Linked DNA regions of Homo sapiens. The protein of the gene in region 2 interacts with the protein of the main gene of each other region in a biochemical or structural test. Each region holds a gene or a part of one and is shown on either strand. Other genes may lie near its edges. The genes, in order: PRKAR2A and PJA2.

Region 1 (16,596 bases), on a different chromosome or scaffold from region 2:
TAAAATATTATATATTAATAAAAGAAAAAAAATTAGGCCGGGCATGGTGGCTCATGCCTTTAATCCCAGTACTTTGGGAGGCTGAGACAGGAGGATTGCTTGAGCCCAGGAGTTCCAGACCAGCTTGGGCAACATAGTGAGACCCCATCTCTACAAAAATAAAATATTAGCCAGGTGTGGTGGCACACGTCTGTGGTCACAGCTACTCGGGGCTGAGGTGAGAGGATTGCTAGGGGGCTGAGGTGAGAGGATTGCTTGGGGCCAGGAGGTGGAGGCTGCAATGAGCCATGATTGTGCCTCTGCACTCCAGCCTGGGTGACAGAGCAAGACCCTGTCTCAAAAAAATATATATGTCAAAAAATGTATATATGTGTATATATATATTTATGTGTATGTATATATGTGTGTGTGTGTATATATATATATGTTTAAGTTAAAGATGGGGGGAAAAAAAGGAAGGGGCATATAGATTGGAAAGGAAGTATTAAAACTTTGTTTCAGGTGACATGATCCTCTATGTAGAAAATTCTAGCCGGGTGTGGTGGCTCACACCTGTAATCCCAGCACTTTAGGAGGCTGAGGCGGGCGGATCACGAAGCCAGGAGATCGAGACCATCCTGCTAACATGGTGAAACCCTGTCTAAAAATACAAAAAAATTATCTGGGCCTGGTGGCGCGTGCCTGTAGTCCCAGCTACTCGGGAGGCTGAGGCAGGAGAATGGCGTGAGCCCAGGAGGTGGAGCTTGCAGTGAGCTGAGATACCGCCCCTGCACTCCAGCCTGGGTGACAGAGCGAGACTCCGTCTCAAAAAAAAAAAAAAAAAAAAAAGAAAAGAAAATTCCAAGAATGCCACAAAAAGGCTACTAGAATTAATAAGTGAGTTTAGCAAGGTTATAGGACACAGTACAAAGTCAAAATACAAAAATATGTTTTTTTTATATACTAGCAAAGTTCCATTGGAAATCTCTTAAAACAACATTTTCTATTATATGTACCTGCCAGTTCTTAACATTTATTATCAGAAGTAACTAATTAAATTATTCTTTGTCATTCTTCTAGGGGAACTTATGACATTTTAGTAACAAAAGATAATCAAACCCGCTCTGTTGGTCAATATGACAACCGTGGCAGTTTTGGAGAACTAGCTCTGATGTACAACACCCCGAGAGCTGCTACCATTGTTGCTACCTCAGAAGGCTCCCTTTGGGGACTGGTGAGTGAGAGAAATCGTTCCCCTTGCAAGGCACAGTATTAATTCCCTTTCTGTGTCTCTGTCCTTGGGCTGTTGATTTACACTATATCTTACAGCCATCCTGGCTAACACGGTGAAACCCCATCTCTACTAAAAAATACAAAAAAAATAGCCAGGTGTGGTGGTGGGCATGTGTAGTCCCAGCTAGTTGGGAGGCTGAGACAGGAGAATGGCGTGAACTCGGGAGGTGGAGCTTGCAGTGAGCCGAGATCGCGCCACTGTACTCCAGCCTGGGCGACACAGCGAGACTCCGTCTCAAAAAAAAAAGCACTTTATTGTGACATCCTGATGTTAAATTAAGAGTGCTCCTGAAAGAGATACAGTGACTTAAGGATAGGTCACACACTTGGGGACTCAATGATTGAAAAACTCAAGAATAGATTTGTATAGGGGAATAATAAATAATGGGGGCCAGGCACGGTGACTCACACCTGTAATCCCAGCACTTGGGGAGGCCAAGGCGGGAAGATCACTTGAGGTCAGGAGTTCGAGACCAGCCTGAGCAACATGGTAAAACCGTGTCTCTACTAAAAATATGAAAATTGGCCAGTCATGGTGATGGGCGCCTGTAGTCCCAGGAGGCGGAGGTTGCAGTGAGCCAAGATCACGCCACTGCACTCTAGCCTGGGCGACTGAGCAAGACTCCATCTCAAAAAATACAAAATCAAATAATAAGCCTTGGTGCTAACTACTGGTTCAGACCAAGATGGAATAGCCCTATTCCATGCTAGTGTTCTCACTTAAAAACTTAAACACACACACAAACAACTATGGACATAATAGAGCAAACATAGGAAGACTCTGAAAGGTGGAAAGAAGAAGGCAGACTATCTAGGGATATTGGGGCTTGAGGAAAGACATGACAGTGAGTTCCCAGGTTCCCATATATCCCAGATGGGGTGCTGGAAAGCCTGAAATCCAGATCTTCTAACAGGTATATTCAACAAAAGCAAAACTCCATCTCAAAAACAAAACAAAACAAAAGAACGAACAGCTAAACAGAAAATCAGCTAGTGTCAGCTAGGATATAGAAGAACTTAACACCATTAATTAACAAAAGCTATCTGAAATTTATAGAACACTGCACACAGCAACAACAGAATGAACATTTTTTTCAAGCCCATGGAACATTCACCCAAATAGGCCATATCCTGGAATATAAAATAAAACTTAAAAAATGTAAAAGATTTGAAATCAGGCCAACCACAGTGGCTCAAGCCTGTTATCCCAGCACTTTGGGAGGTTGAGGTGGGAGGATTGAGTCCAGGAATTTGAGACCTACCTGGGCAGCATAGTGAGACCACATCTCTATTTAAAATTTTAAGAAATAATGAAAATTTAAAGAAAAAATGAAATCAGAATGTGTTCTCTAACTACAATTGAAAGAAAGAAACTAAAAATCAATAACAGATCTCCAGACACTTAGAAATTAAATAACATTGTTTTTGGTGTGAGCAGGGGCTAACTGCAGCCTTGACCTCCTGAGCTCAAGCAATCCTCCCACCTCAGCCTCCCAAGTAGCTGGGACTACAGGTGTGCACCACCACACCTGTCTTTTTGTTGTTGTTGTTGTTGAGACAGAGTCTCACTATGTTGCTCAGGCTGGTCTTGAACTTCTGGGCTCAAGCAGTCCTCCTGCCTTGGCCTCCCAAAGTGCTGGAATTACAGGCATGAGCCACTGTGCCCAGCCAAATAACACATTCTTTCTTTTTTTTCTTTTTTGAGATGATCTTGGCTCACTGCAACCTCTGCCTCCTGGGTTCAAGCGATTCTCCTACCTCGGCCTCCTGAGTAGCTGGGATTACAGACGTGTGCACATGTGCCACCACGCCCAGCCAATTTTTGTATTTTTAGTAGAAATGGAGTTTCACCATGTTGGCCAGGCTGGTCTCGAACTCCTGACCTCAGGTGATCTGCCCACCTCGGCCTCCCAAAGTGCTGGGATTACAGGCAAGAGCCACCGCACCCGGCCAAATAACCCATTCTTGGATAATCTCTAAGACCAAGTCTCAATGAAAATTGAAAACTGTATATTGAGCTGTAAAACCACCTGCTTTGTGGCTGGGGTATGAGGATTAAATACATGGGCATAAGAGAAGTGACTCCCTTAGTGCCTGGTACAAGGTGGGTGTTCACAGAATGATGGCACAAGCTCCCCATGGCCATGGTGCTACTCACCACCCTTCTTTTCCTGAGACTTCCTTTCCTAAGACTCCTATTCTTTCTATTTCCTTGCCTTTGGCAGTCATTTCCTCTTCTCCTTGCTTTCTTAGGTCAGTGACCTATCAAGATATCCTTTTGGCCTCTACTTTTCTCCTGTTAATTGACTTGCTTTGCAAGCCCAGACTCTTCCAAAGCTTCAATACCACCTCTAGGAAAGTAACTCACAGAAGGTCCTCTCCAGCCTGACTTCTTCTTTGGCCTTGGAAATGCCTTCTGAGGTTGAAGTAGGGAGGATCTGGTGTCGTCACTGAGTTTTTCAAGTTGGATCCTACATTCCTGCTTTTATAATGGGCAGCTGCCATCACGGCCCCTATACGTAGTCTCTTTTGCTTTCTCTTGCTTTATTGAAAGTCAATAGAAGGTTTCCTGGGAAATTCCTGCAGTCACAGGAGAGAGTAGCACTCCTTTTCTCTTTTGAACTTCAGGGGTGTTTGCTTGCCTCTGACCACTTGCTGCCTGTGGGAATTTCCTCTTCACTGCTCGATTGGATGCTCATCAAAGGCTATGTTGATGTCTGGTGCTTTTTTTATATTCTCCACAGCCATGGGAACTGGCCTTGCACCACATGAAAAGAGAGTTTTGGGAAGTGTTAAAGCATGCGTAAAAAGGGGTAGAACCAGCTGGGTGTGGTGACTCATGATGTAATCCCAGTACTTTGGGAGGCCACGGTGGGCAAATCACATGAGCCTAGGAATTCAAGACCAGCATGGGCAACGTGGTGAAACCCTGTCTCTATGAAAAATAAGAAATTAGCTGATGTGGCGGCACATGCCTGTAGTCCCAGCTACTTGGGACGCTGAGTTGGGAGGATCACCTGGGCCTAAGAGGTCAAGGCTGCAGTGAGCTGTGATCATGCCACTACACTCCAGCCTGCTGAGTGACAGAGTGAGACTCTGTCTCAAAAAAAAAAAGTCGCTTGCCGGGCGTAGTGGCTCGTGCCTGTAATCCCAGCACTTCGGAGGCCAAGGTGGGCAGATCACCTGAGGTCAGGAGTTGGAGACCAGCCTGACAAACATGGAGAAACCCTGTCTCTACTAAAAAATACAAAATTAGCTGGGCATGGTGGCGCATGCCTATAATCCTAGCTACTCTGGAAGCCAAGGCAGGAGAATCACTTGAACCTGGGAGACGGAGGTTGCGGTGAGGCAAGATTGCGCCATTGCACTCCAACCTGGTCAACAAGAACGAAACTCCATCTCAAAAAAAAAAAAAGTCGCTGTAAGAGATATTTGTTGTGGTCGGGCACAGTGGCTCACGCCTGTAATACCAGCACTTTGGGAGGCCAAGGCGGGCGGATCATGAGGTCAGGAGATTGAGACCATCCTGGCTAACACGGTGAAACCCCGTCTCTACTAAAAATACAAAAAATTAGCCGGGCGCGGTGGCAGGCGCCTGTAGCCCCAGCTACTCAGGAGGCTGAAGCAGGAGAATGGCGTGAACCAGGGAGGCGGAGCTTGCAGTGAGCCGAGATTGTGCCACTGCACTCCAGCCTGGGTGGCAGAGCGAGACTCTGTCTCAAAAAAGAAAAAAAAAAAGAAAGATATTTGTTGTTTTCTCTTTAGTTAGAAATCTGTTGTTGTTGTTGTTGTTTTTGAGATGGACTCTTGCTCTGTCATCCAGGCTGGAGTCCAGTGGCATTATCTCGGCTCACTGCAACCTCCGCCTCCAGGATTCAAGCAATTCTCCTGCCTCAGCCTCCTGCATAGCTGGGATTATAGGCATGTGCCAACAGTACTGGCTAATTTTTTATATTTTTGGTAGAGATGGGAATTCACCATGTTGGCTAGGCTGGTTTCGAACTCCTGACCTCAAGTGATCCACCCACCTCAGCCTCCCAAAGTGCTGGGATTACAGGCGTGAGCCATGCGCCCAGCCGAAATATTGTTTGCTATTGCAATTGTACTAATCTTTGTTACACTGTAGGTGGATTTGTAAAATATTGGGAGTTAACTTTGCTGCCCTCTGTGTATTTTTTAATATTTATTTATTTATTTATTTTGAGACGGAGTCTCTGTTGCCCAGGCTGGAGTATAGTGGTGTGATCTCGGCTCACTGCATCCTCTGCCTCCAGGGTTCAAGTAATTCTCATGCCTCAGCCTCCCAAGTAGCTGGGACTATAGGTGTACACCACCATGCCCAGCTAATTTTTGTATTTGTAGTAGACACGAGATTTCACCATGTTGGCCAGGCTGGTCTCGAACTCCTGACCTCAAGTGATCCACCCACTTTGGCCTCCCAAAATGCTGGGATTATAGGTGTGAGCCACTGTGCCAGGCCTTTTATTTTATCTATCTATGTATCTATGTATGTGTGTGTGTGTGTCTGTCTGTCTGTCTCTCTGTCTGTCTATATCTATCTATCTATCTATCTATCTATCTATCTATCTATCTATCTATCTTTTGAGACGGTCTCACTCTGTTGGCCAGGCTGGAGTGCAGTGGTGCTCTCACACCTCACTGCAACTTCGCCTCCCAGGGCTCAAGCAATCCTCCCACCTCTGCCTCCCCAGTAACTGGGACCACAAGTGCACGCCACCACGCCTGGCTAATTTTTGTATTTTTTGTACAGATGGGTTTCGCCATGTTGCCCAGGCTGTTCTCAAACTTCTGGGCTCAAACAATCCACCCACCTCCCCACCTCAGCCTCCCAAAGTGCTGGGAATACAGTCGTGAGCCACTGTTCCCAGCCTGTATGGGTTTTTTTTAAATAAATAAATAAAATATTGGGGTTTTCTGTTTTTGTGGGGTTTTTTTGTTTGTTTTTTTTTTTGAGATGGAGTCTCGCTCTGTCTCCCAGGCTAGAGTGCAGTGGTGTGATCTTGGCTCACTGCAACCTCCACCTCCCAGGTTCAAGCGATTCTCCTGTCTCAGCCTCCCTAGTAGCTGGGACTGCAGGCGCGTGCCGCCATGCCCAGCTAATTTTTTGTATTTTTAGTAGAGACGGGGTTTCATTGTGTTAGCCAGGATGGTCTCGATCTCCTGACCTTGTGATCCACCCGCCTCAGCCTCCCAAAGTGCTGGGATTATAGGTGTGAGCCACTGCGTCCAGCCTGTTTTTGTGTTTTAAATAGAGTTGAGGTCTCATTGTGTTGCCCAGGCTGGTCTTGAATTCCTAGCCTCAAGCGATCCTCCTGCCTTGGCCTCCCAAAGTGCAGGGATTACAGGCATGAACCACCACACACAGCCTAAAATATTGTTTTGTTTTTGTTTTTTTCGAGGCAGGGTCTCGCTCTGTTACCCAGGCTGGAGTGCAGTGGCATGATCTCGGCTCACTGCAACCTCTGCCTCCCAGGTTCAAGTGATTCTCCTGTCTCAGCGTCCCAAGAAGCTGGGATTACAGGCGCCCACCACCATGCCTGGCTAATTTTTGTATTTTTAGTAGAGATGTGGTTTCACCATATTGGCCAGGCTGGTCTTGAACTCCTGACCTCAAGCGATCCGTCTGCCTCGGCCTCCCAAAGTTCTGGGATTACAGGCGTGAGCCACTGCGCCCAGCCCATTATTATACTTTCTGACAAAATGTATATATGTATAGTCCTGACAGCCTGAGGTGGAAGAAAGGTAGTTAACTTAGATACAAATAACTGCTTGCCCATTTAGGAATCTAAGACTAAGCAATTAACATTCTCACATGTATCTCCCTGCACATGTGTACACATATCTGAGAAGTGCCTGGTTTGGTTAACTGTCTTCTGATCAGAATCCATTACTTACTAAGCCAGGCACAGTGTTGTGTACCTGTAGTCCCAGCTACTTGGGAGGCTGAGGTGGGGAGATCACTTGACCCCAGGAGTTCAAAGCCAGCCTGGACAACATTGGGGGACCCTATCTCAAAATAAAACAGAAGGAATCCATGACTTGCTAGAGTCAAGGTATCTTTCATATGCCTGCCTTCCATCTTGCGTATTCCTCCCGTGTCTCTCCATTAACTTAAATCCTACCTCTCTTTCAGGTCCTAGACATTTTTGCTGCAAAATAATCTTTGATCACTCCTGCCTACTGTGATCTCCCCTTCTTACCTTGAAATTTATGTGGCACTTGTCTTCTGTAGTTTCATCAAGCACATTTCATATGCTCATATGCTGTCTTGAACTGTAGACTTTTTATTTTTATTTTATTTTTTTTTGAGACACAGTTTCAACTTATGTCACCCAGGCTGGAGTGCAGTGGCGCAATCTCAGCTCACTGCAACCTTAGCCTCCTGAGCTCAAGTGATTCTCCAGCCTCAGCCTCCCAACTAGCTGGGACTAGACAAACGCCACCATGCCCAGCTAATTTTTGTATTTTCTGTAGAGATGGGGTTTCACCATGTTGCACAGCCTGGTCTTGAACTCCTGAGCTCAAGTGATCTGTCTGACTCAGCCTCCCAGAATGCTGGGATTACAGGTGTGAGCCACTGCACCTGTCCTTGAAATGTAGACTTTTTATTCCTATGTATTTTGTTGTTGTTGTTGTTGTTGTTGATATTGTTGTTTTTGGGACATAGTGTCACTCTGCTGCCCAGGCTGGAATGCAGTGGTACAATCACAACTCACTGCAGCTTTGACCTCTCAGGCTCTGGTGAGCCTTTCACCTCAGCCACCCAAGTACAGACAAGTGCCACCATGCCCAGCTAACTTTTTTTGTGTATTTTTTCGTAGAGAGCGTGTTTCACCATGTTGCCTAGGCTGGTCTCATACTCCTGGGCTCAAGCAATTTGCCCACCTTAGCCTCCCAAAATGCTAGGAGTACAGGCAGTGAGCCACTGCATTCAGCCAACCTTCATATTTTGATATTTTATATTATCTCCCCATTAAGATTGTAAACTTTTTTAGGGTAAGAACAATCTAATTGTTCTTTTTTTAGGCAAGAACAATCTAATTGTTTTGGATTTTTTAAGTTTTTTTAAATCCTGGATTCTAAGGATTAAATGATTGTTTTATTCTCTCTTTTGGTGAGGTGTCTCTTTTTTTTTTTTTTTTTTTTTTTTGAAATGAGGGTCTCACTCTGTCACCCAGGCTGGAGTGCAGTGACATGATCTCGGCTCACTAGAGGTGTCTTTTTTGATATTGAACAGTGACAGTGAGCTCATAAATGTTTAGGTGTTTTCTGTTTTGGGTTCTATTTATGACCCATAGGTGGCACCTATTGAGTGCTAGATAGCAAGCAACAGCATGTGGGCATCTGGCTGGCTCAGGCTATAGGTCCTTTACTTCCAGTGATGACTCAAGATTGAAGTATCATTAAACACTTAATTAACACAGTAACTTACATATTCCTCTAATATTTGCTTTGGCCAGTTAATTAAACCATAGATGTTCCTGTATATAGGCATTTACTAGAATTTTCATATTCTTTCTTGTAGGACCGGGTGACTTTTAGAAGAATCATAGTGAAAAATAATGCAAAGAAGAGGAAGATGTTTGAATCATTTATTGAGTCTGTGCCCCTCCTTAAATCACTAGAGGTAAAGTGGCTTGAATAAGAATCTGTTCATGGGGATCAGGAAAAGCTTTTAAAACTATTCTGTTGTTAGGTTTTCAAATCATACTATTCTAATCCTATTTCTGTGCTGCATAGCTATTGTGACTTTCAATTAAGGTCTTTTCCTTTTATTTGTGAATTTGTTGTTTCAGGTGTCAGAACGAATGAAGATTGTGGATGTAATAGGAGAGAAGATCTATAAGGATGGAGAACGCATAATCACTCAGGTGAGTGAGGGCTTTACGCAGCTCCTTTCCTGGAAGTCACCCCTGAAGAACTAGTACATCATTTATCTCAAAAACTTCTTGCCGGACGCAGTGGCTCACGCCTGTAATCCCAACACTTCGGGAGGCTGAGGCAGGTGGATCACTTGAGGCCAGGAGTTCAAGACCAGCCTGGCCAACATGGTAAAACTCCATCTCTACTAAAAATACAAAAATTAGCTGGGTGTGGTGGCCCATGCCTGTAATCCCAGCTACTTGGGAGGCTGAGGCGGGAGAATTGCTGGAACCCAGGAGGCAAAGGTTTCAGTGAGTCGAGATTGCGCCACTGCCTCCAGCCTGGGCAACAGAGCAAGACTCCATTTCAAAAAAAAACCAAAAAACCTTCTATGTTCTCCCACTGTTGGGAGCTCTTATTACCAGGTAATAGATCATACTTCAGAGGACTATTATGTAGTCCTCTGAAGCTTATTGACGTCCGTCTTACTGACACGTGCAGATCTCTTGCTTCCTCTCACCTTTCCTTGGCTTCTAGTGTTTGTTCTTTTGATGTCATTTTCTTTTGACCTTAAGTAAGTTTCATCCATTGCTATTAGAACCTGGGGAAGGTTAAAGAGTTCTGTCCTCTAACTTTCTATATTTGACACAAAGGCATCCTTTTGGCTAATCTAACACAAATCAGAGTTCACAGTCTTCAGTGATTAACCAAATTTGTAAGATGTAAAGATTACTAAACAGTGGGCTAGATCATTGTAATGAGTACTGTCTGATAATTTTCTTTGTCCGCTGTGTTTGTATTTTTAATTAAACATAAATAGTATTGGACTTTTCCAGGTATAAGCTTATCTGCCTATGGTTCTGGCTCAAGAGCACGGAGAAGATACATGGTTGGTCTAGGTTGGGTGATATGCTTATCCTAGAACCCAGTACTGAGACTACGAGGAGGAAAGGCTCAGATTGGTCAGGTGTGGGTCCTGTGGGTGGAGTTGGCCCCACTAGAACACAAGGACTAATCAGACTTACCATAAAAGGGGAGAAAAAAGCTCCCTTGGAAGAGATAAAGGACTAACAAAAATATGATGTCTACTCTGAGTCACATCTCTAAATGTATTTGTTTTCTAGGAGCCGTTACTATTAATAATTCTTTTAATTAGAAATTGGAATATTCTATAAACATTTATTAAGATAGGTAGGACCAGATATGATAAGCACTATAATGAAGGAGAGTATGAACGACAGTGAGAACATAGAAATGGAAGTAATACATATGGTTTCATTGAGGAAATGCCATTTGAGATGGGCTTAAAAAACAAGTGCAATTTCAATGTTTGGGATCAGGGAAAGGTCCTTCAGAGCAAGAAAACAATATTAGCAAAGGCCAGTGGTGTGAGCTGTGTTTCAGAGCAGGTATCCTGGTATGGTAAGAATGTAGTGCTGAGATTCAGAAATGGGAGATGTTAACTGGCCACATTTGCTTCTGAACCTAAGGTGCTTTAAGTAACATTCAAAGGACCTTCAAGTCATCCTGAAGGTTCTAGGCCTGTCTCATACTGGGTTTTCAGGAAGTATGTCAGGAGATGTGAGAAGTCAATAGTGTTTTCTTCATGGTCTGTGCTCTTGAAGATAGAGTGCTATCTATCTTCAAGGTAGATAGGTAGTGGTACAGAATGGACATTAATTAAGATGATATTAAAAGGGGCTTATTGTAGGTCCCTTTTGTCAATGTCTCTCACTGGACCAAGGCTTCTCAAAGTGAGGTCCCAGGACCAGCAGCAATCAGCATCATCTGAGGATGTTAGAATTGTTAGGAATGCAAGTTCTGGAGCCCCCCACCAGACCTGCTGAATCAGAAACTACATTTTATGTTGTTTCATTTGTTTTGATCAGCTTTGTTACAGTGTATTTTACATACAATAAAATTACTAAGTTTAAGTGTACAAATCGGAAGAGTTTTGTAACCATCCCCAAGTGGTATTTCCATCACCCATACAGTTCCTTGTTTTGTATTTGCAGTCAGTACCCTCCCCCACACTCACATTCCTGGAAACCATTGATGTTTTCTGTCACTGTAGAAATTCCTTTCTACAATTTAGTATAAATGAAATCATGTAATGTATAGTCTCTGTGTCTGGCTTCTTTCTCTTAGCATAATATTTTTGAGATTTATTCGTGTTGTATGTATCAGTAGATCGTTCCTTTTTATTGCTAATAATATTTCATTGTACAAATGTAATTTTTTTTTCTTTTTGAGACGGAGTTTTCCTCTTGTTGCCCAGGCTGGAGTGCAATGGCGCAATCTCAGCTCACCATAACCTCCACCTCCCAGGTTCAAGCTATTCTCTTGCCTCAGCCTCCCATTACTTTTTCTTTTTAATGAGATACAGTCTTGCCCTGTTGCCCAAGCTGGAGTACAGTGGCATAATCTCAGCTCACTGCAACCTCTGCCTCCCAGGTTCAAGCGATTCTTGTGCCTCAGCCTCCCGAGTAGCTGGGACCAGAGGCACGTGTCACTCTGCCCAGCTAATTTTGTGCATGTGTGTGTTTTTTTAGTAGAAATGGGATTTCACCATGTTGGCCAGGCTGGCCTCCTTAGTAAATACTTAAGAGTGCAATTGCTAAATTATATTTTAACTTCATAACAAACTGTTTCTTAAAATGGCTGTACTGTCTTGTATTCCTACCAGCCATGTATGAAAATTCCAGTTTCTCTGCATTCTCACCAATAAATAGTATTTACAGCCTTTTTTAAAAAAATTACAGTCAGGGTCTTGCTATATTGCCCAGCCTGGTCTCGAACTCCTGAGCTCAAGCCATCTGCCCGCCTTGGCCTTCTAAGTGCTGGGATTATAGGTGTGCACCTCCGCACCTGGCCTTCATTTTCTTAATGGTATCTTTTGAAGAGAAAATGGTTTTAATTTTGACAAGTCCAGTTTATCATCTTTTCTTCTTTGTAGTTGTGTACTTTTGCTGCTGTATTTTAGGAAATCTTTGCAAAATCAATAATATGTTCTCCTAAGTTTACTTCTAAGACCAGCACTATTCAATAGAAATAATATGTGAGCCACATATGTAATTTTAAAAATTTTTGGTCAGGCAGGGTGGCTCACGCCTGTAATCCCAGCACTCTGGGAGGCTGAATAGCTTGAGGCAGATAACTTGAGGCCAGGAGTTCGAGACCAGCCTGGCCAACATGGCGAAACCTCGTCTCTACTAAAAAGTAATAAAAAAAATTAGCTGAGTTTGCTGGTGCACAACTGTAATCCCAGCTACTTGGGAGGTTGAAGCACGAGAATCGTTTGAACTTGGGAGGCAGAGGTTGCAGTGAGCCAAGATCATGCCACTTGCATTCTAGCCTGGGGGACAGAGCAAGACTTGGTCTCAAAAAAAATAAATAAATAAAAACTTTCAGTAGATATTTGAAATGGTGAACTTAATTTTAATATATTTCATTTAACTCAGTATATCTAAAATGTTGTTTCAACATCTAAGTGATATAAAACTTTATTAATGAGATATTTTACATTTTTAATACTGTCTTCAAAATCTAATGTATGTTTTCCATCTATAGCACATCTAAGTTTATACTAGCAACATTTCAAGTGCTCAGCCACATTTGACTCGTGGCTAATGTATTGAGCAGTACAGCTCTAGACAGTCAGAATTTTAGCTCTTACCTTAGGTCTGTGATCCATTTTGAGTTATTTTTATTGTTTTTGTTTTGTTTTTTTGAGATGGAGTCTCCCTCTGTCACCCAGGCTAGAGTGCAGTGGTGTGATCTCGGCTCACTGCAAGCTCCGCCTCCTGGGTTCACGCCATTCTCCTGCCTCAGCCTCCCAAGTAGCTGGGACTACAGGCGCCCGCCACCACGTCCGGCTAATTTTTTGTGTTTTTAGTAGAGACAGGTTTCACCGTGTTAGCCAGCATGGTCTCAGTCTCCTGACCTCGTGATCCTCCTTCCTCTGCCTCCCAAAGTGCTGGGATTACAGGTGTGAGCCACTGCACTCAGCCTTGTTTTTGTTTATTAGAAGCAAGGTCTCACTCTGTCTTTCAGGCTTCAGTACAGTGTGCAATCATAGCTCACTGCAGCCTTGAACTTCTAGGCTCAAGCAATACTCTTCCCTTAGCCTTCCAAGTAATGCCACCACACTAAGCTAATTTTTTTTTTTTTTTTTTTGAGACGGAGTTTTGCTCTTGTTGCCCAGGCCAGAGTGCAATGCCACGATCTCAGCTCACCACCACCCCCGCCTCCTGTGTTCAAGCGATTCTCCTGCCTCAGCTTCCTGAGTAGCTGGGATTACAGGCATGCACCACCATGCCCAGCTAATTTTTTTTTTTTTTTTTTTAGTAAAGACAGGGTTTCTCCATGTTGGTCAGGCTGGTCTGTGAACTCCCTACCTCAGGTGATCCGCCCACCTCAGCCTCGGCCTCCCAAAGTGCTGGGATTACAGGTGTGAGCCACTGCGCCCGGCCTACACCCAGCTAATTTTTAAATTTTTTGTAGAGACAGGGCCTCTCTATGTTGCCCATGCTGGTCTTGAACTTCTGACCTCAAGTGATCCTCCCACCTCACCTCCCAAGTAGCTAAGATTACAGGCTTGTGCCACCATACCTGACTACATTTTTGTGTTTTGTTTTGTTTTGTTTTGTTTTTTGAGACAGAGTCTTGCTCTTGTTGTCCAGGCTGGAGTGCAATGGCACAATCTCGGCTGACTACAACCTCCACCTCCCCAGTTCAGGTGATTCTTCTGCCTCAGCCTCCCGAGTAGCTGGAACTACAGGCATGCATCACCATGCCCGGCTAATTTTTTTTTATTTTTAGTAGAGAACAGGGTTTTTGCCTGTTGGCCATGCTGGTCTCAAGCTTCTGACCTCAGGTGATCTGTCCGCCTTGGCCTTCCAAAGTACTGGGATGGCGTGAGCCACCACACCTGGCCTACATTTTTGTTTTTTAATGACTTGTATAATTTTCACAAGTAATTTTCATGATTGATAGAATATTTAGCTTATTCTTAGAGTAATGTAGACAGAAGGTGGCTTTAGTTTTACAAAATCATGTTTTATGTTTTTGCTATTAAAGTACCATTGCATTAAACCAAAAAGATTCCCATATCCTGAAAATTAGGGCTTCAGTCATTCTTATGGTGGAATGTGGATCTTATATTATCTGTTGTGAAAAAGAGACATATAAGAACCTGATGACATGTTCACAAAGACCTAAAATGCAGTACAGTCTGGCTTCTTTACTGTTGAATGTAGAATGGAATGTTCTTTCTGTGAGATGTGTACACAGAGCCTATTAGTGAACTTGAAAAGCAGGATACTTGGCCGGGCGCAGTGGCTCATGCCTGTAATCCCAGCACTTAGGGAGGCCGAGGCAGGCGGATCACCTGAGGTTGGGGGTTCGAGACCAGCCTGACCAACATGGAGAAACCCTGTCTCTACTAAAAATACAAAATTAACTGAATGTGGTGGCACGTGCCTGTAAATCCCAGCTACTCAGGAGGCTGAGGCAGGAGAATCACTTGAACCCAGGAGGTAGAAGTTGTGGTGAGCCAAGATCGCGCCATTGCGCTCCAGCCTGGGCAACAAGAGTGAAACTCCGTCTCAAAAAAAAAAAAAAAAAAAGGGGCAGGATGCTCTTCCAGTGAGCTCTCTTTTCCAACTGGGTAGTCATCTCATTCTACCCTGCAAAATGACAGCAGTCCTACAAAGCCTGAACAGCCAGTATACCCAGAATATCCACCACTGGACAGCATGGAAACAGGAAATGTGTGTCTTGGCCCACACATTTAGCCTGTCCCAGCCTAACCAGGCTGTTTCATGAGATTGGAAATGCAAAAGAGTGCATCCCTTAACTGCCACAAAGATCAACTGTTTTCAGCTGATGGTTAAAATCATCAAAACATGGTTTTATTTTAAATTTTATCCCCTTGCATTGTTTCACATTATCATAATCCATTGTAGTGAAGTATTACCAAATCAGTAAAATTTAATGGACCAAAGTCCTTTCACTGTCCTTCATTTGGTCCAGAGGAAGAGGTGAACCAAGGCTTTTTGTTTCTCATGTATTCTAGATGACATTCTTTCCCATCTCCTCTCAACCCTGAATCTACCAACTACTCACGCTACCTGCTAGGGAAAGATTATTTATCCCCCAGGCTTCTGAGGAAAGTCATCCACAAAATTGGATAGTAATAGTACCTACTTTCTTAGACTTCTTTGGCAAAAAAAATGAAATGATACACATAAAGTACTCACCAGAGAGCCTGCTGGGAGTGAGCACACAGCAACATTAGCAGCTTCTATTCTATATGAGCTCCCCTGTTCATTCTCCTCAGGCCCTAAGTCATTCTTATCCTGTACACATACCCTAGTCTCTGCTGTCTTCTTCATTTTGTTTTCCTTTTCTCTTTTTTTTTTTTTTTTTTTGAGACAGTCTTGCTCTGTCGCCCAGGCTGGAGTGCAGTGGCACAATCTCGGCTTACTGCGACCTCCACCTCCTGGGTTCAAGCGATTCTCGTGCCTTAGCCTCCTGAGTAGCTGGGATTACAGGCACACACCACCACGCCTGGCTAATTTTTTGTAGTTTAGGTAGAGATGGGGTTTCGCCGCCATGTTGCCCAAGCTGGTCTCGAACTCCTGAGCTCAGGCAGTCTGCCTGCCGTGGCCTCCCAAAGTGCTAGGATTATAGGCATGAGCCACTGCACCAGGCCATTTTTTTTTCCTTTTTTCTTTTTTTCTTTTTTTTTTTTGAGATGGAGTCTGACTCTTTTGCCCAGGCTGGAGTACAGTGGTGCAACCTCGGATCACTGCAACCTCCACCTCCCAGGTTTAAGTGATTCTTGTGCCTCAGTCTCCCAAGTAGCTGGGATTACAGTTGTGCACCACCACTCCTGGCTAATTTTTGTGTATGTATGTATGTATGTATGCATGTATGTATTTTATTTATTTTTGAGACAGAGTTTCGTTCTTGTCGCCCAGGCTGGAGTGCAATGGCGTGATCTCGGCTCACTGCAACCTCTGCCTCCCGGGTTCAAGCTATTCTTCTGCCTCAGCCTCCCAAGTAGCTGGGATTACAGGCATGCATCACCACACCTGGCTAATTTTTGTATTTTTAGTAGAGATGGGGCTTCACCATGTTGGTCAGGCTGGTACCAAACTCCTGACCTCAGGTGATCCACTCACCTCAGCCTCCCAAAGTGCTGGGATTACAGGCGTGAGCCACCACACCTGGCCTGTTTTTGTATTTAGTAGAGACAAGGTTTCACCATTTTGCCCAGGCTGGTGTCGAACTCCTGGCCTCAAGCAATCCACCCCCCTCAGCCTCCCAAAGTGCTGGGATTACAGGTGTGAGCCACCGTGCCTGGCCTTTGCTGTCTTCAAAACACACGTACACTCCTTCCTTCAGTTTGTTTCTATTTTAGCTACCAGCCTAATT
Region 2 (16,596 bases):
AGTATATCAACTTTTTAAGCTTTACAAAAAAACTCAAAGTTCACAGGCCCAAATTAAGCAGCAGCTCTTATACTTTCCATCCAAAACCTGAGAAGACTAGCATCACCATCTCTCCAATCTACAAATACAAGAACTAGGGAGGATGACAATGAAACATCAGGGAGATGAACAAGGGCAAAATGAAACTAAATAGGAGTGTACAGCTATTAAATTCCAACCTTTAGCTGGCACCATATTAAAAAGGCACCCTGGCAACTATAATCCTTTGCAGGGAATTAGGGTAGAGGAACAGGACACAGCAGCATAGAAACAGAGTTTCTGTTCAGAAATAGAATAATCTGTACAGAAAACTGTACAGACACTTTGAGATCGTAAAACATATCTTAAGGCTATGGATAAAAATATAAGTACAGTCCTAGGCAGAACCATTATCCTTTAGAATTTATTCTATGATTCTTTAAAACAAAACGAAACAAGAAACTTTTAAGCATTTCAATGTGTCTTAAACAATGATCCTAAAGTAGTTCCATCATTTTGGCATACCCTAACCACAGGCTCTGTAGTCAATACATTACTAGCAATTTAAAAGGACAGTTTCTATTAACTGTAAATGTTTTTTCCCATCTATATATTGTTTGTAAAAAAAAAAAAAAAAAACTATCATTGTTCAGAATATTGACATCACTTAAGAAAAAAATTAAAAATAAGAATAAGAATTACAAATAACTAAGAAAATACCTTATAACTATGAAAAGTCCAGGGTCCTTCAAGGCAAAGAATACACTTCCACCACTGACCACCCCCAAAACAAAGAAAATCAATTTAAAATCAAGGAGCCAGGAAGACTACCTTTCTCTAGGGGTTGGCAAACAATGTAACAATTTCATCAACTTCATCATAAGACATTATAACTGACTATAAAAAGCAAGCAGAAGAGAAGTATTTATTTTGCCCAAAATGACAAAGGTATAGCCAAATTAAATGATTCTCCTTAAAGAAGAAAAAGTGTAACTGGGGGAAAAAAAATACAAGCACCTTACACTTTCAAAAAAATAAATTATCAAAGACTGTAAGTTTTGTCTTTTTTTAAAAATAGTAACCTAGAGGTATAATATTAGAGACTTGCAATCTATTTCAAAATCTTAGGGCTAAATGTGTTTTGGAATTTTGATATATATTTCCCAGATTTAGAACTACTACTTAACAAACCCCAACATGGTCCAGGCCACACACAGTAATCAAACATAACTATATTTCTGCAGTAAAATATACAAATATTTGAAAAAATACCCTCATTTCAATTCAGATCCAGATCTGCTTATCCAGGAAGTTAACATCAGGTCAGGCTTTGTGGCCAATTTCTGTTTTTAGAAGTGTGGATACTGAATAAAACACTGTGGGCTTGAACTGAAAAAAACTTTACCTTTAGCTTAAAAACAGTATATCATACAAAAATTACTTACTAACCCTTAAAGTTTACAGACTTTGACAGAGCAGCAGAAATTATATTTTAAATATTTTCTATAATAAATTACACAATCTGTATTATAGTAGCTTAATTCATATGTCCAAAGAAAATCAAATGAATTGTTTTATGACATGAATTAAAATGCATTCATATTCAAAATGGTAAATTTCTTCCTTTATAGTACTTTCTAACTAAAAAAAAACCACACAATTATTTCCACTAGCTAATAAAATCTTGCAATTGCACTGTAATTGAGCACTGTCAGGGATGCAACTAGCTTACAAGGACTCATGAAAATCTGGACACTGGGGTAATGGAAATTCAGCAACTGAACAAAGAAATTCTCCATTTTTTTCTTTTTCTGTTGTCTTATGGTTTGGAAAAAAAAGATACGGGTTTGTAAGAGCAATCAGAATGCTTATTATAAGTTTTATGTTCTGTTGAAAATAGCAAAGAATAGTGGTGAACAGTCTCTGGAATACCCAGTTAGGTACTCAAAGTCCAGCTCTACCATTAAGTTGCTCTGTGACCTTAGGAAGTTATATAATGCTCTGTGCCTCAGTTTCCTTATTTACAAATGAGGGAAATAATGGAATCTACCACACAGAGTTGTTAATGAGAATTGAATGCTAAGAAAAAATAAGTAAAAAATAAACTTAGTGATAGGAAGAGCCACAGGAAGAACAGATAAAGAGGGAAACAAGTGATATTAGTCACTACTGGCAATGTTAATGAAGTATTACCAATCAATAATTTGTGATATTAATCACTTTTTAAACCCAGACTGGCTTAATGTAGGTTTTTAAAAAATACAACAAATGTTTATTTTACATTTTATTAATTGAAATACCATGAACTAGCATCTCTATCCCTTTATAATAATAATCATTATCTGAACTTACTTCTGTAAACTACTAAAAACCTCAAAAACATTTTTTTGTGAAAAATTCTAATGAGTAGTTTGCATGTATGGTTAGCATTCAGTAAATAAAAATATTTGGTAAGTCAAAATGTCTAATTCCCTGATCATATCAAATAGCCCAGCCATCAAACATGGTTCTAGAAAGAAACCACTTCATTTACTACACAATCGGAAAAAGTACTGGATGTGACCTTACCTATCTTCATCTTTGTCATAGAGTTGGTAATAATCTCCACAGCCATTCCAAAAGGTGTTATCCACCTCTTGCCTTCCTGCTGTGGCTCCACTTTCTGATGTCATTTGGTTATTTTCTGTTTCCCTTTGTGTAATAACTCTTGAGTATGGTGGATCCAAGAACATACAGTCATGCTCTCCATCATATTCTTCACATTTTATTAAGAGGTCATCTGAGCCACTTTCCTCAACTTCCAAAGCCTCTCTCCATCTTTGAACACTTCTTTGTTTCGCCTCATGCCTATTAAAACCTGTTTCTTGGTCCACCTGGCTTGAACTTATCAGTTTTCTAACTTTTGGCCTCACTACCTGTTCAGGAGAACTTCCATGGTTCTTTTCCCTATCATTGGTATTTTGTTCACTACAAATATGCCCTGGACCACAGGCTGCATCTTCAGGTGAATGTTCTGTCTGTCTTTCCTGGCTAGTATTATTTTGTTGTTTCGTACTAACCATTTCATCTTGAGAAGACCTCTGAATTTCCTGGCTATTCTGATGGACAAACTCAGTATCACCAGCAGAACTTTTCACTAATGGTACAGAATCTAACTCTTCAAACTCATCTCTTACTTCACAGTTAAATGAGGGAACTGGTGGTGAAAGACCAGTGTATGCCTCTGCCTCTCTGTTTTCCAACTCAAATACTGTATTGCCTAATGATTCCTGGTATCTACTACCTTCCACGACTTCTGCAGAAAGTTGAAGATGGTCATTATCTTCTCCATGTTTGCCATCTGGATCATAAGAGTCTGTATGAACCAATGCAATTCCATTTTGGACACTTGAAGCACTACAAGCTCCTGGAATATACTCTCCCTCAGAGTGATTATGAAGATTTGTACTGCTTCCTAAGGTATCCCTGCCTTCCTCACTGTGATGTACTGCAACAAAGGATTGACTGCTCTCAGTGGTTTGATTCAATGCTGAACCACAAGTGGGAATTTCTGTTTCACTTTTTTCAAATATAGGTTCACTGGGTAAAGAAGAATCAACTTGATCCAAAGGACTGGAACCTTCATAAAAAACAAAAGAAAACATATTTTAAAGGATTAACTTAGATAAAATTTTATGTAATAACTATCACTTAAGTGGAAATCATACCAATTATTACTACTTGAATACATGAGTAAATTTATTTACCAAGCACTTCTATGCTCCTTAACTGAGAATGCAGACTGATTACTCTATGAGTTCATTTATGTCAATGTACAGCCTTTCACTATCATCTCCCTCACATGGCTTTGGCAGTTTTCTATCTAAATCCTAATATCTAATGCCTTCTGCAAGACATATAAAGGAGAAGCTCTTGAGAGGTTATACAATGGGAAGCCTCTCGTAAGTGGAGTCTAGGGTAACCAATCTGCTTCCCAGTGATTTCCAAACTTACCTTCTTTATTATATGCAGGTAAAAACAACAACAAAACAAAAAACCTTCAAAAGTACTTATGACAGATATAATAACTATAGTTACAGATTTAAGAGAAATTAGACCCTATTGTGTTTTGTTGGCAATTCACAAAATTATATCTCAGTATCTCGACAGATTATAAATTGAATTGTTGTAATACATTTGTAATAAGTTTACTTTAGATGTGTTATAGTTATGACTGAAAAACAACAAAGAGATCAATATGTTGATTCTTGTCATAATTGTGAGAATTCTGAAACATGAGTAAAATCATATCTATAAATTACTTTAAGCATAACTATCTTGCATCACCACTAATAAAAAAAATGAAGACATTTGAGATTTGCTGGAATAAAAATTCATGAATTGTAAAATAACTGAAGTTCGGCCATGATATATGGTACGAAGGGTTCTTTGATATATGGTACGAAGGGTTCTTTTTTTTTTTTTTTTTTTTTTTTTGAGACGGAGTCTTGCTCTGTGGCCCAGGCTGGAGTGCAGTGGCATGATCTCGGCTCACTGCAAGCTCCGCCTCCCAGGTTCACACCATTCTCCTGCCTCAGCCTCCCAAGTAGCTGGGAACGAAGGGTTCTTCAATGGGATGACCCTAGCTAGTAATTCAGATTCTTACATATGACAGCAAAAATAATCTAGAAATGTCTTGTCAAGTTTGCTTAGAACAAGAGGAAGAAGACAAATCCAGTCCAAAAATGTGCAATTATGGTACATGGATAGCTGCAAAATACTTTTTCAAAACCATTGAATAACTAAGAAATTTTAATTGAATAAGCCTTCCTTGTCCTTTGGATTTTGTAAAATGATGAAAAAATAAACAAGCCAAGTTAAATTTAGGATAAAATTAAAAGAAGAAAAGTTGGCCGGGCACAATGGCCCATGTCTGTAATCCCAGCACTTTGGGAGGCTGAGTTGGACGGACCACTTGAGGTCAGGAGTTCGAGACCAGCCTGGGCAACATGGCAAAACCCCATCTCTACCAAAAAATACAAAAATTAGGCGTGGAGGCGCATGCCTGTAGTCCCAGCTACTTGGGAGGCTGAGGCAGGAGAACCACTTGAACCCAGGAGGTGGAGGCTGCAGGGAGCCCAGATCACGTCACTGCACACCAGCCTGGATGACAAAGTAAGATTCCATCTCAAAAAAAAAAAAAAAAAAAGAACGCCAGGCATGGTGACTCACACCTGTAATCCCAGCACTTTGGGAAGCCAGCCAAGACAGGTGGATCACTTGAGAGGTCAGGAGTTTGAGATCAGCCTGGCCAACGTGGTGAAACCCTGTCTCTACTAAAAATACAAAAATTAGCTGGGTGCAGTGACAAACACCTGTAATCCCAGCTACTAAGGAGGCTGAGGCACAAGAATTGTTTGAACCTGGGAGATGGAGGTTGCAGTCAGCCAAGATGCACTACTGCAGTCCATCCTGGGCAACAGAACGTGACTCCATCTCAAAAAAAAAAAAAGAAGAAGAAGAAAAGTTATTTAAATATTATATGCAGGGAAAAAATATCTCTACTTGATCCACATTTTTAAAAATTTCAAAATATATCTTTTTGATTCAAAGATGATTTCCTTTGGCTGGAGGTTATGACAACGTAATCACTACTATGAGAGTGTGGTTATATTTTAATGATTGGCTGTATTCTATTTTCTTCTACAATGTTTAAATATATACACCATTAATATTAAATTCAATAAGAATTTCAAAATAGAATTTCTTGATAGGAAGTGTGCTGCATTTACACTCACAGACATGCATAATACCCACCCAAAAATTTAATTATAAGATCAATTCCTATATAACTATTAATAACCTTTAAATAATTAAATGTTACACACCTGAGGAATTTTCCTTTGGAACATCATCTAGTTCCAACACTTCATAGTCATCACCAGCCCGACCTAAGCTTCTTTCATGTCTGGTCATACATGGTTTAAAACTGACATAAGCATGTCTTCTTCCATATCTCCTGCCTGTAATTGTCTGATACCCTCCTGCTGGTTTGGGCCAGACAGCCTTACCAGATTCTTGGTCCATTGCTGAAAAAAAAGTTAAAAAATTAAAACAGGAACAGCAATGAGCTTTATTCTTGCAACCTGTTGGGGAAAACTACTTCAGTTTATATTTTATTATTTATCAAATCATATGCTTCTGAACATGAAGTGTACCTTACTAGTACTATAAAACATTATTCTTCACACACTAGAAAATTAAATATGAAGTACTATATAATAAGAGTTAGTGGCCTTTTCCCTTCAAAAAATATGTTTTAAAATTTGGTTTCTTTAAGGTATTTCAGATTTTTATAATGAAACCTATCAAAAAATATTTTTCATATGCCAAATTATTATACTGCCAAAGCTCTTTATGGGAGATCTTCCAAATTAAGTACCTTATATATTATATTAATATAAGTGCTCAATACATATTTGATGAATCAATTACTAGCATTATGATATGATGGTTTCAATTACTTTAAGAATGAAAACATTTATGTCAAAGATAACAAGTAACCTCTTTAAATGGTATCTGTACCATGAAGAATCAACTAGATCACAATAAATATGTTCCAAAGATTAACGTCAGATAAAACTATCCAAAAGAAAACAGCAATGAGCCAGGTCAAACACATACTACCCTGCCTTCAAAACTACCAATAAATGGTATATGTTATGGTAAGAAAAGCCATCAACATTTACATGACTTGACAATTAAGTTTTGTTGACTGAGGGGTATACAGTAGTAAACAGCAGCAACTTTCACTAAGTAGTACATTATTATACACACACATATATATATTAAGTGTAAGTCTGCTTAGTCAATTATACATTACATGTACTACACAGCAACTAAACAAAATATTTTCTCACAGCATATGGTATAGTCAATAAATGCAACAGTTGCTGGGCATGGTGGCTCATGCCTGTAATCCCGGTACTTTGGGAGGATGAGGCAGTCGGATCACTTGAGGCCAGGAGTTCGAGATCAGCCTAGCCAACATGGCGAAACCCCGTCTCTACTAAAAATACAAAAATTAGCCAGACGTGGTGGCACATGCCCATAATTCCAGCTACTCAGGAAGCTGAGGCATGAGAATCACTTGAACCCAGGAGGCGGAGGTTGCAGTGAGCCAAGACTGTGCCACTGCACTCCAGCTTGGGTGACAGTTCGAAACTCCATCTCAAAAAAAAAAAAAAAATGAATAAATGAATGAATGAAACAGTTACATAATTTCTTAGTTGTATTAAAATAAGAAATATAATCACTTCCAAGAAGGAAACAGAAACAAACATGTATTTATAATACACGCACATATCGAGTATAAATAATATCAAGTGTTACACTTATTTAATCCCATCAGTAATCTTGAGGTGGATATTGTATTCTATTTTAAAAATTGAAAAATTAAAGTTAAAATTAAGTGTTGGATAACTTGTCTAATAATCCAAAAGTATGACTCCAGAACCAATGCCCTTAACAATTCTACCAAAAGAATAGTCTCCGAAGTGGAAAGCATAAAGCTTTCCAAGCTAAATGGGTATGGAAAGAAAATACCAGAATTTCTATTTTTACCTATCAAAAATTAGAAACTAAGCTTTACAAATATTCAATATATGGATCAAAACCAGCCTTTTAGTAAGACCACAGGTCAGATGATCATATGTCACTTACTGGTACTCAAGGTACCCAGAGGAAAAAACAAGAAGTACTCAATGTAGAAGAACTGACTTTCCTTACCTGCTGGCTCCTTTTCAGTGTACTGTGACATATATGGCAGCGTCTGTGTGACCAGTTCAGTAGAATTATAGATGTGATTTAGTTTTTATTCACACTATGGACAAGCCGCAGAAGATTCCTACAAAGAAACAATGAATTGAACAATATATTAATAAAAGCACAAAAATAGCAAAACTGATACTTCTGCTCCTCCTAGTGAAGTCTTATAATAAAACTTAGAAAAATACAATGTGATGTAGCCAGCATGGTGGCAAATGCCTGTGATCCGCCTTAGATTACAGCACTTTGGCAGGCCAAGGCGAGCAAATCAGTTTGAGCTCAGGAATTCGAGAACAACCTGGCCAACATGGTGAAAGTCTGTCTCTGCAAGAAATACAAAAATTAGCCAGGCGTGGTGGTGCACACCTCTAGTCCCTCAGGAGGCTGTGGTGGGAGGATTGCTTGAGCCCAGGAGGTGGAGGCTGCAGTGAGCCGAGATCATGCCACTGCACTCCAGGCCTGGGTGACAAAGTGAGATCCCGTCCCAAAAATAAATAAAAACAAGAAAAATACAACACAATTTGACAAGCCAATCAAAAACTCTCAGAAATACCAAAATGGCTATGTGAAATACAGATTTACATCTGCTCTTGATAAACCTTGCCTAAGTATATATCATCCTTAAGACTGTCAATGACAACAACACATACATAATTTGTAAGTAAACAAACAAAAATATCAGAAGTACTGACTCAGGTATGTAACCAAACTATTTGGGAGTCTACTACACTGTGCTATCATTGCTTCTCTGTCAAGCAGTAAAGTTCCTTTAGCCCTGGAATTGCTAAAAGGTAACTGTAAGAATACAAACTTCATTTTTTAAAAATGTGTAATGGCTTATAACAATAATTAATGTGTGTAAATAATGATGTATTTATTCTTTGCAATAGTCAGTTGATCAGATAATTTAATCCCAAATAAGAACCTATTTTCAATCAGGAAAAACTACAATTTATCATGGAACAAATACAAAAAGAACTTCTGTTTTGAAATTAATGCATTTATTTACTATTTGAAAAGTACTATTTGAGAAGTTGCAACCTGTGGTTTTTTTGAAAGTTTGGTTAAGTTTTTATTTAAACACCTTATTTATTTAAACACTTGAGCTACTGCTAATTGCTCATCATTAATGCAATAGCTCTGCAAATGAGTTTAATTTATATGTTACCTGTCTAATCACAGACAGATATATATTAACATACGTAAGAGTACAAACCCACATTCACCCATATAATTTATAAATTCAGTAACAAGTTATGATCCTTTAAAGTATCTGAATCAAAAGAGGCTGTTAGCAACAGCTAAAGAGAAAAGGAATATAAAAATAATAATAATCTTAACATACTGGCAAAAACATAGGTGCTAATTAACAGTGTTTTAACTTTTTTTTTTTTGAGGGCGAGTCTTGCTCTGTCGCCCAGGCTGGAGTGCAGGGGCTTGATCTCGGCTCACTGCAACTTCCACCTCACGGGTTCAAGTGATTCTCCTGCCTCAGCCTCCCAGTAGCTGGGACTGTAGGCGTGTGCCACCATGCCCGGCTAATTTTTGTATTTTTAGTAGAGACAGGGTTTCACCATATTGGTCAGGCTGGTCTCAAACTCCTGACCACGTGATCCACCTGCCTTGGCCACCCAAAGTGCTGGGATTACAGGCATGAGCCACAGTGCCTGGCTGAAATGTGCGTTTTATTCTGAGATGGAAAACCATCAAAGTTCTGACCACAGAAGAGATATTTGACTTCTGTTTTAAGAAGAATGCTCTGGCTACTGTATTGAATAGCATGAAGAGGAATGAGGTCTAAAGCAGGGAGCACTGTTAAAAAGCTATCAAAATAATACTGGTAAGAGATCATAGTGGTTTGGACCAGGGTTAAAATAAAGATGGTAAGAAATGACCAGATTCTGGACATATTGTAAAAATACAATCAACAAAATTTACTAATATAGGATATGAAAGAAGGTCGAGGTTGACTCCAGGTTTTACAGGCTGGGCAATGGGAAAAATGGAGTAAATTTCAATTAATGTAGGAAAAATTGTGGAAGAGCCAGATTTGAAGAAAATATATTCAGTTCAGTTTTGGATGAGTTAAGTTTGAGATATCTATTAGACATTCAAATGGAAATATTAAATAGGAGTCTGGTGTTGACTGAAGAATTATGAGCTGTTAGTATAATTTGGGAGTTGTCAGTGTATAGATTATACCAAAACAGGTATGAACTTGGATGAGATCTCTAGGTGTACATGGAGAAGTGAAGTTAAGCCCTGAGAAAATCAAATATGAAGAGGCCAGGGAAAAAGAAGCAGAGATTGAGTATCCCTTTTCCAAAATGCTTGGAACCAGAAGTGCGGATTTGGGATTTTTTCAAATCTTTGAATATTTGCATATACATAATGAGATATCGTGGGGATGACATCCAAGTCTAAACAGAAAATTCACTTGTTTCCTACACATCTTACACACACAGTCTGAAAGTAATTTTATACAATACTTTTAATAATTGTGTGCATGAAATAAAGCTTCTGTTAAGTACTGATGTGTGGAATGTTAAAATTATGGTGCCATATTGGCAGTAAAAATGTTTCAGATTTTGGGGCCAGGTGCAGTTGCTCACACCTGTAATCCCAGCACTTTGGAAGGCCAAGGCAAGCAATCACCTGAGGTCAGTGAGACTCTGTCTCAAAAAAAAAAAAAAGTTTCAGATTTTGGAACATTTTTCAAATGTTAAATTTTTGAATTAGGGATGCTTAACCTATAGCAGAAAAAACAACAGAGGGCAGTGAGAGAAAAGAAAAATACTGAAGTGTGAACACCAAGTGAAGAAAGTGTTTTAGGCAGAACTGATCGTGCCAAAAGTTAAAGTATGATGAAGGCCTATCACTGACCACTTAGCAACATGGAGGATAATGGCGAATGGCGGCACCTTTGGTAGCATGGTTGGTGCAAATGCCTGATAGGAATGCTACTAAAGAGAGGAAAGGAATTGGAAACAGTACAGAAATCATGGAAATCACCCTGTTTCTTAAACTTTTCTTTAATGTGATTCCACTTTTCTTCTTAAAGATACTCTTCGGAGCCGTCTAACATCCTGATCTAAATTTAGTCTACGTGTTTTCAAGGGCTATTAATCAGCTACTTCTGTGGAAATCTTTTGATTGTACTACCCGCTCAGGTTAAGTACCCTACTTTGAATTCCATGTTTTTATCATTTTTTTTTTCCCTTTACTGGAAGATCCTCAAATAATGGTTTCAACAAGTATATGTTGGAGGCAAACACTGAGTCCTTGGACATCTGAAAATACTATCTCCCTCATACTTTAGTACAGTTCAAGACAAAATCATTTTTTCTAAACTCTGAAAGGCACTGTGTCCTACCTGTCTACCTATTTATCCTCATTTTGTAGAAACACCAAATTTTTCTGTCTGGAATATTTAGGGTCTATCTAAATAGCTGGTATTCTATAATTTCACAAAGACTTGTTTGGGGCAGGCCATGTTTAAATTTTTCCTACACAGCACTGGAAGAGCTATTTTAATTTAGAGACTCTTGTACACGTCTCAAATACATCTTTTTCCTCACTACTTTTTCTTTATTTGGCCCAAATGGGTTAATCATTTGTCTCTAAACTTTTCTTTCATATTTTCACTCTACAGACTGGGAGATTTCACTCATTTTTACTTCTTTCCCTTAGCCTTTCCTTATTCTCTTAGCCTGTCATTACTCTCTGTAACAATCTTTTTAATTTCTCATACTTTCTTATTCTGTGATTATTATTTAATAGTAGTTCTTGTGTTATGAATATAGACTAGAATCTCTCTGTAGATACTAATTATTTCTACTTAATCCGAGACCTCTATATTCCGTCTACCACTTTCTATCTCTAAGTATAAAAAATAAGAAAAAAAGCAAAACAGGGAAGAGATAAGTAGGGAATAAAGACCATAGCTAGGGTCAAGATTAAAATGATTAATCAGTCCAAATTTGTAGCTAAGGTAAATTGGGAACACCTAGTTTTTCTCTAAATAGACATTTCCTTTGCTGATTAGTTGTTTCCTCCAGGTACTATTCACCTAACATGTTTATAACAGACTGCTCTCTACTTGTGACAATTAGTCACTTCAAACAATTCGGGGTTTTTACATACTTCTTACTAATACTAAAACAAATATATAAACGTGTTGCTAAGAATTAAAGGACTCAATCAAGGACGTATTAATTTCTGGATCTCTGAATTATTAACCTAGAAGTAATCACTTTATCATTTCAACCAGGATATTATGCCAACAGATCTGGACAGACAATAGGAATCATCTTTAAAGAATGCAAGGAAGAACATGGACATGTAAGGTACACTTCTCACAGTAAACTAGTGAATTTAAAGACAAAGGCCTGTTTATTTTTTATTTACATACACTTTGTCTAGTACATTGTCTGACAGTATATTTAAACAGTTACTGAACAAACGAATGAATGAATGAGATAATTCTGTGCTCCTTTCTCTGATGGAAATGTGGTCACATAATGGAAAAAGAGGGCTAAGTATTTGGGCACACATGGATTCAAACTTCATTTAGGCAAGTTAATAAACTGCTCTCAGTATTAGAGCCCTCTCTTGTGACTTGTTTCTAATGAAGACAGTGTGATGGATGTGACTGTGTGTGATGTGCAAGAATAGGGTAATAAAAGGATTGTGGCTTCCTTAATTTCTCTGCTCACTCTTTCTGGAAGAAACCAGCTGCCACATCATGATATCACTCAAGTAGACCCACAGAAAGCCCACATGGTGAAATACTGACCGTTCCTGACAAAATCCACAAAAACTAAGGTCTTCCGGCAACAGCCACATGGATGAGCAACCTGGAAAGGGTAATGCCCTAGTGCATTACCCTTCAGATGACTGCAGTCCCAGCCTACATTTGACTGCAACCTCTTGAGAGACTTGAACCAAAATCAGCAACCAGGCTGCTCCTGAATTTCGAACCCACTGGGACTATGTGATGATAAATGTCTGAGTTGCTATGTCCACTGCAGGACAACAAGTTACTCTACTCTCTTATCCTGCAACAGGTAACAAATACAAACAATGTAAATTAAAATGAAGATTTAGGCACAGGGAGACAAAAATCAGCTAAACTTCCAGAAGAAGGGTTTCAACTGATAGCGTGGATCTACACCCTTATGACTCATCTGCTGGGAGCCAGAAATAACTCACTTTTAAAGTATCTTTTCTAGAAAAAAAAGGTTGAGAATCAAATACAATTTGATCCTTACTTGAAGGAAAAGTCTTGGTTACTCTTCCAAGTCCATTAGAATATTTTTTATTCTCTCATATTTATATTTACATATATGCCTCCAAAATGCCCTAAAAACATTTAAAATTCCTCTTAAATCAGTCTTGTATAATTAACTTACCCTGCATTTCCTTTTAGTGAATGAATTCCTTAGACACACGGAATTTTGATAATTTACACCTATTATCACAACTGAGATATAAATTAAGAACTACAAACTTTATGACAAAATGCATTTATGACAAACTATGACAAATGTTATTAGAAAGCTATTTTACATTCCCCAAACAAATCCATGTTGGTCACAATACATTAACCCTTTTATATCTCACTGGATTATTCTTTTACCTATGTTCATGAGAAATATTGGCTTAAAATAGTCTCGTCATGCTTTTGTCAGGTTTTCCTATCAAGATTATACTAAAGTCATAAAATATGCAAATAAATCTTTCTATCTTCTTCTTGTTCTCTAGAAGAGTCTGTGTAAACCCAGGATTATATCTTACTTAAATGTAAGGCAGATTTGTCAGTGAAGCCATCAGGTCTAGGATTTTCTTTGTGGAAAGGTTTTTGATAAATTCAACTACCTTAATAGACACAGAACAACTCAGATTTTCTATTTCTTTATATGTCAGCTGACTAAACTGTGTTTTTCAGGGATTATGACCTTTCATTCAAGTTGTCAAATGTATTATCAAGTTGTACATAATTCCCTTTCATTAACAATTTAATATAGAGAGGATCTGTAGTGAAGTCTCTTTTTTTCATCCCTGTTACTAGTAATTTGTGTTTTCTCTCATTTTTCTTAATCAGGTCATTACAGGTTTTCATTTTTTAAAAGTTTTCTTAACTAACTGACTGTAAAACTTTCCTGTTTCATTGATTTCTACTTTTATACTATTTCCTTCTTTCTACTTCCTTGGGTTTAATTCATTGCTCCCTTGAGATAGGAGCTTAGACTACTGATTGTAAACCTTTGTTCTTTACTAATTTATACATCTAAAGCATAAAGTTACCTCTAAGCATTGCTTCAGCTGTATTCCAAAAGTTCTGATACGTATTATTTTTATTATTTTTCAGATTAAAATGTTTTCTAATTTCCACAGTGACTTTGTTTTTCATCCACAGGCTACTCAGAAGTGTCTTGCTTAATTTCCAAATATTTGCAGTCTATTTTTTTTTTTTTGTTATTGGGTTGTAATATAATTCTATAGTGATCAGAAAACATGCATTGTATGATTTAAATTCTTTGAAGATTAATGATACTACTTTATGACCCAGAATATTTTTGCACATGTCCCATATGCACTTAAAAATAATGTAAAGCCTTCAGTTGTTGAATATAATGTTCTATAAATGTCAATTAGGTTAAGTTGATTAATCATACCATTCAAATTTCTTATTCCTTTACTAAAACTTTTTTAAATCTTATTGTTCTACCAGTTACTTTGAATGTATTTAAAATCTCCAGCTAGGAATACAGATCTACCTTTCTTTTTAGCTATTTTAGCTTCTGTCTTACATATTTGGAAGCTGTGTTACTATGTGAAAACATATTTAGAATTATGTCTTCTTGATAAATTGGCCCACTCATCATGATTTTTTTTTCTCTTATCTCTCATAACACTTCTCTCCTTAAATCTATTTTGTCTGGTATTAATATAGCCACATCAGCTTTCTTTTGGTATTTGCAACAATACTGATTCCATCTTTTCATTTTACCTGTGCCTTTACTTGTAAAGTGCTTTTCTTATAAATAGAATATAGGTAGGTCTTACTCACTTATATATAATGTCTGATAATCTTTCTCTTTTTGTTAGAATATTTAATCCATTCACATTTAACATAATTACCAATGTAGTCTGGTTTAAATCTACCATCTTGCTATTATTTTCAATCATCTCACCTGTCCTTTGTTCCTTTATTCCTCCGTTCTTGAATTCCTTGGTAATTTTTTTTTATTATTCCATTTCATCTGCTAGCTTTTTTGATACATCCTTTAAAATATCATTATCTTAGTGGTTTTCCTAGAAATTACAAAATGTATCCTTGATGTATGCTGGATGATATTTCCTAGAAGCTCTAAATAACTTACCTTTCTCTAATGAGTATTTTAAGTTTTCTTTTGGCAGGCAATTATATTGCAAGTAGATTGTCTTAACATCACAGAAGTCTGGTTTTGGTTTATGTTTGGGCAAGTCCATTTCAGCTTGTCCTTATATCAAAGTGTAACCTACACTCTTACTGTCTACTTCAAACTACAGATGCTCCTGGACTTAAAATGGGGTTACGCCCTGACAAATCCACTGTAAAATGAAAATATTATTAAGTTGAAAATGCATTAAAGACCCTACTAAACCCATTGTAAAGTTGAAAAATCATAAACGAAACCAGTTGAGCACTGTCTGTAGTTCTTTTACCAGGTCCCCAAAAAATGAAAGAAACTCACATAACAGTTTAACTCCTCCATGTCCATGGTTGTTATCTTCATATAGCTCACCCTACATGTAAGCCCCACCAAACATTATCAAGACTGTTTCAAACACCCAATAATCTTCAATATCCCTTTCTGAAAATGTCTACTTATTCCATTTCCATGCCTCCATCTGTCTGATGTTCCTTTAGCCTAAATAACATATTTTAATGTTTGTTATGAGTCTGCTGGTGACAACTTCCCTCTCTGCTTCTGTCTGTCTAAAATTGTCTTTGTTTTTGAAGGATATTCAAATGAGAATAGTATTCTACATTAGACACCTTTTTTTTTTCTTTTTTGGAGCACTATAAAGATGTACCCCTATTGTTTCCTGGCTTCCACAGTTTCCATTAAGAAGTCCATGTCATCTGAGCTGAATACATATACTCAAACACCTACCAAGTGAGTGTGCTTGTCAGTGAATTAAAAATGAGAGAAAATAAAAAGTTTAAGAATTGGAAAGGAAAGAAAAATCTCATTATTCACAGATAACATGATTATATATGAAAAAAAAGGAAGAAAGTACCTACAAGTAAAGTTCTATAGTGATAACTTTTAGATGGTTGACAGATACAAAGTCAATATAAAAATGTATTATCACATTCCAACACATAGCAAGAAAACTAAATTTATTACTAATATTACCTTGAAAGGATATCGTTTACAAGAGCAACTATAAACATCAAATCCCTAGAAAGAAACCCAATGAAAGATGCAGAATATTACTCACAGAAATTTTAGAAGACATAACTACGTGAAGAAAAATCCCATACTCATTGGCTTGGAAGATTCAGTTTTATGAATTTCAATTCTCCTTAAATAATCTATGGGTTAAATGTAATCCTAATAAAATCCCAGCAGGCATTTTTTTGGGGGAAAATTGACAAGGTGATTCTAAAATGTAAATAGGAGTGTAAATGGCCAAGAATAACCAAAGTTATCACTAAAAAGAACAAGGTACAAAGAGGTAACTCTTTCAGAAGACAAACCTTAAAAACTTATGATAATA

Evidence for each region.
Region 1: the proteins of PJA2 (region 2) and PRKAR2A form a complex in vitro, tested with the Homo sapiens proteins (one study listed by BioGRID).

Annotation. Positions count from the first base shown.
Region 1 is NC_000003.12:48,757,572-48,774,167, reverse strand, and holds part of PRKAR2A (cAMP-dependent protein kinase type II-alpha regulatory subunit), read left to right. Parts: intron 1-1,059; coding exon 1,060-1,213; intron 1,214-8,818; coding exon 8,819-8,920; intron 8,921-9,089; coding exon 9,090-9,164; intron 9,165-16,596. UniProt on the Homo sapiens protein: Regulatory subunit of the cAMP-dependent protein kinases involved in cAMP signaling in cells. Type II regulatory chains mediate membrane association by binding to anchoring proteins, including the MAP2 kinase.
Region 2 is NC_000005.10:109,375,618-109,392,213, forward strand, and holds part of PJA2 (E3 ubiquitin-protein ligase Praja-2), read right to left. Parts: intron 7,904-16,596; 5' UTR 7,817-7,903; coding exon 7,786-7,816; intron 6,087-7,785; coding exon 5,886-6,086; intron 3,638-5,885; coding exon 2,587-3,637; intron 1-2,586.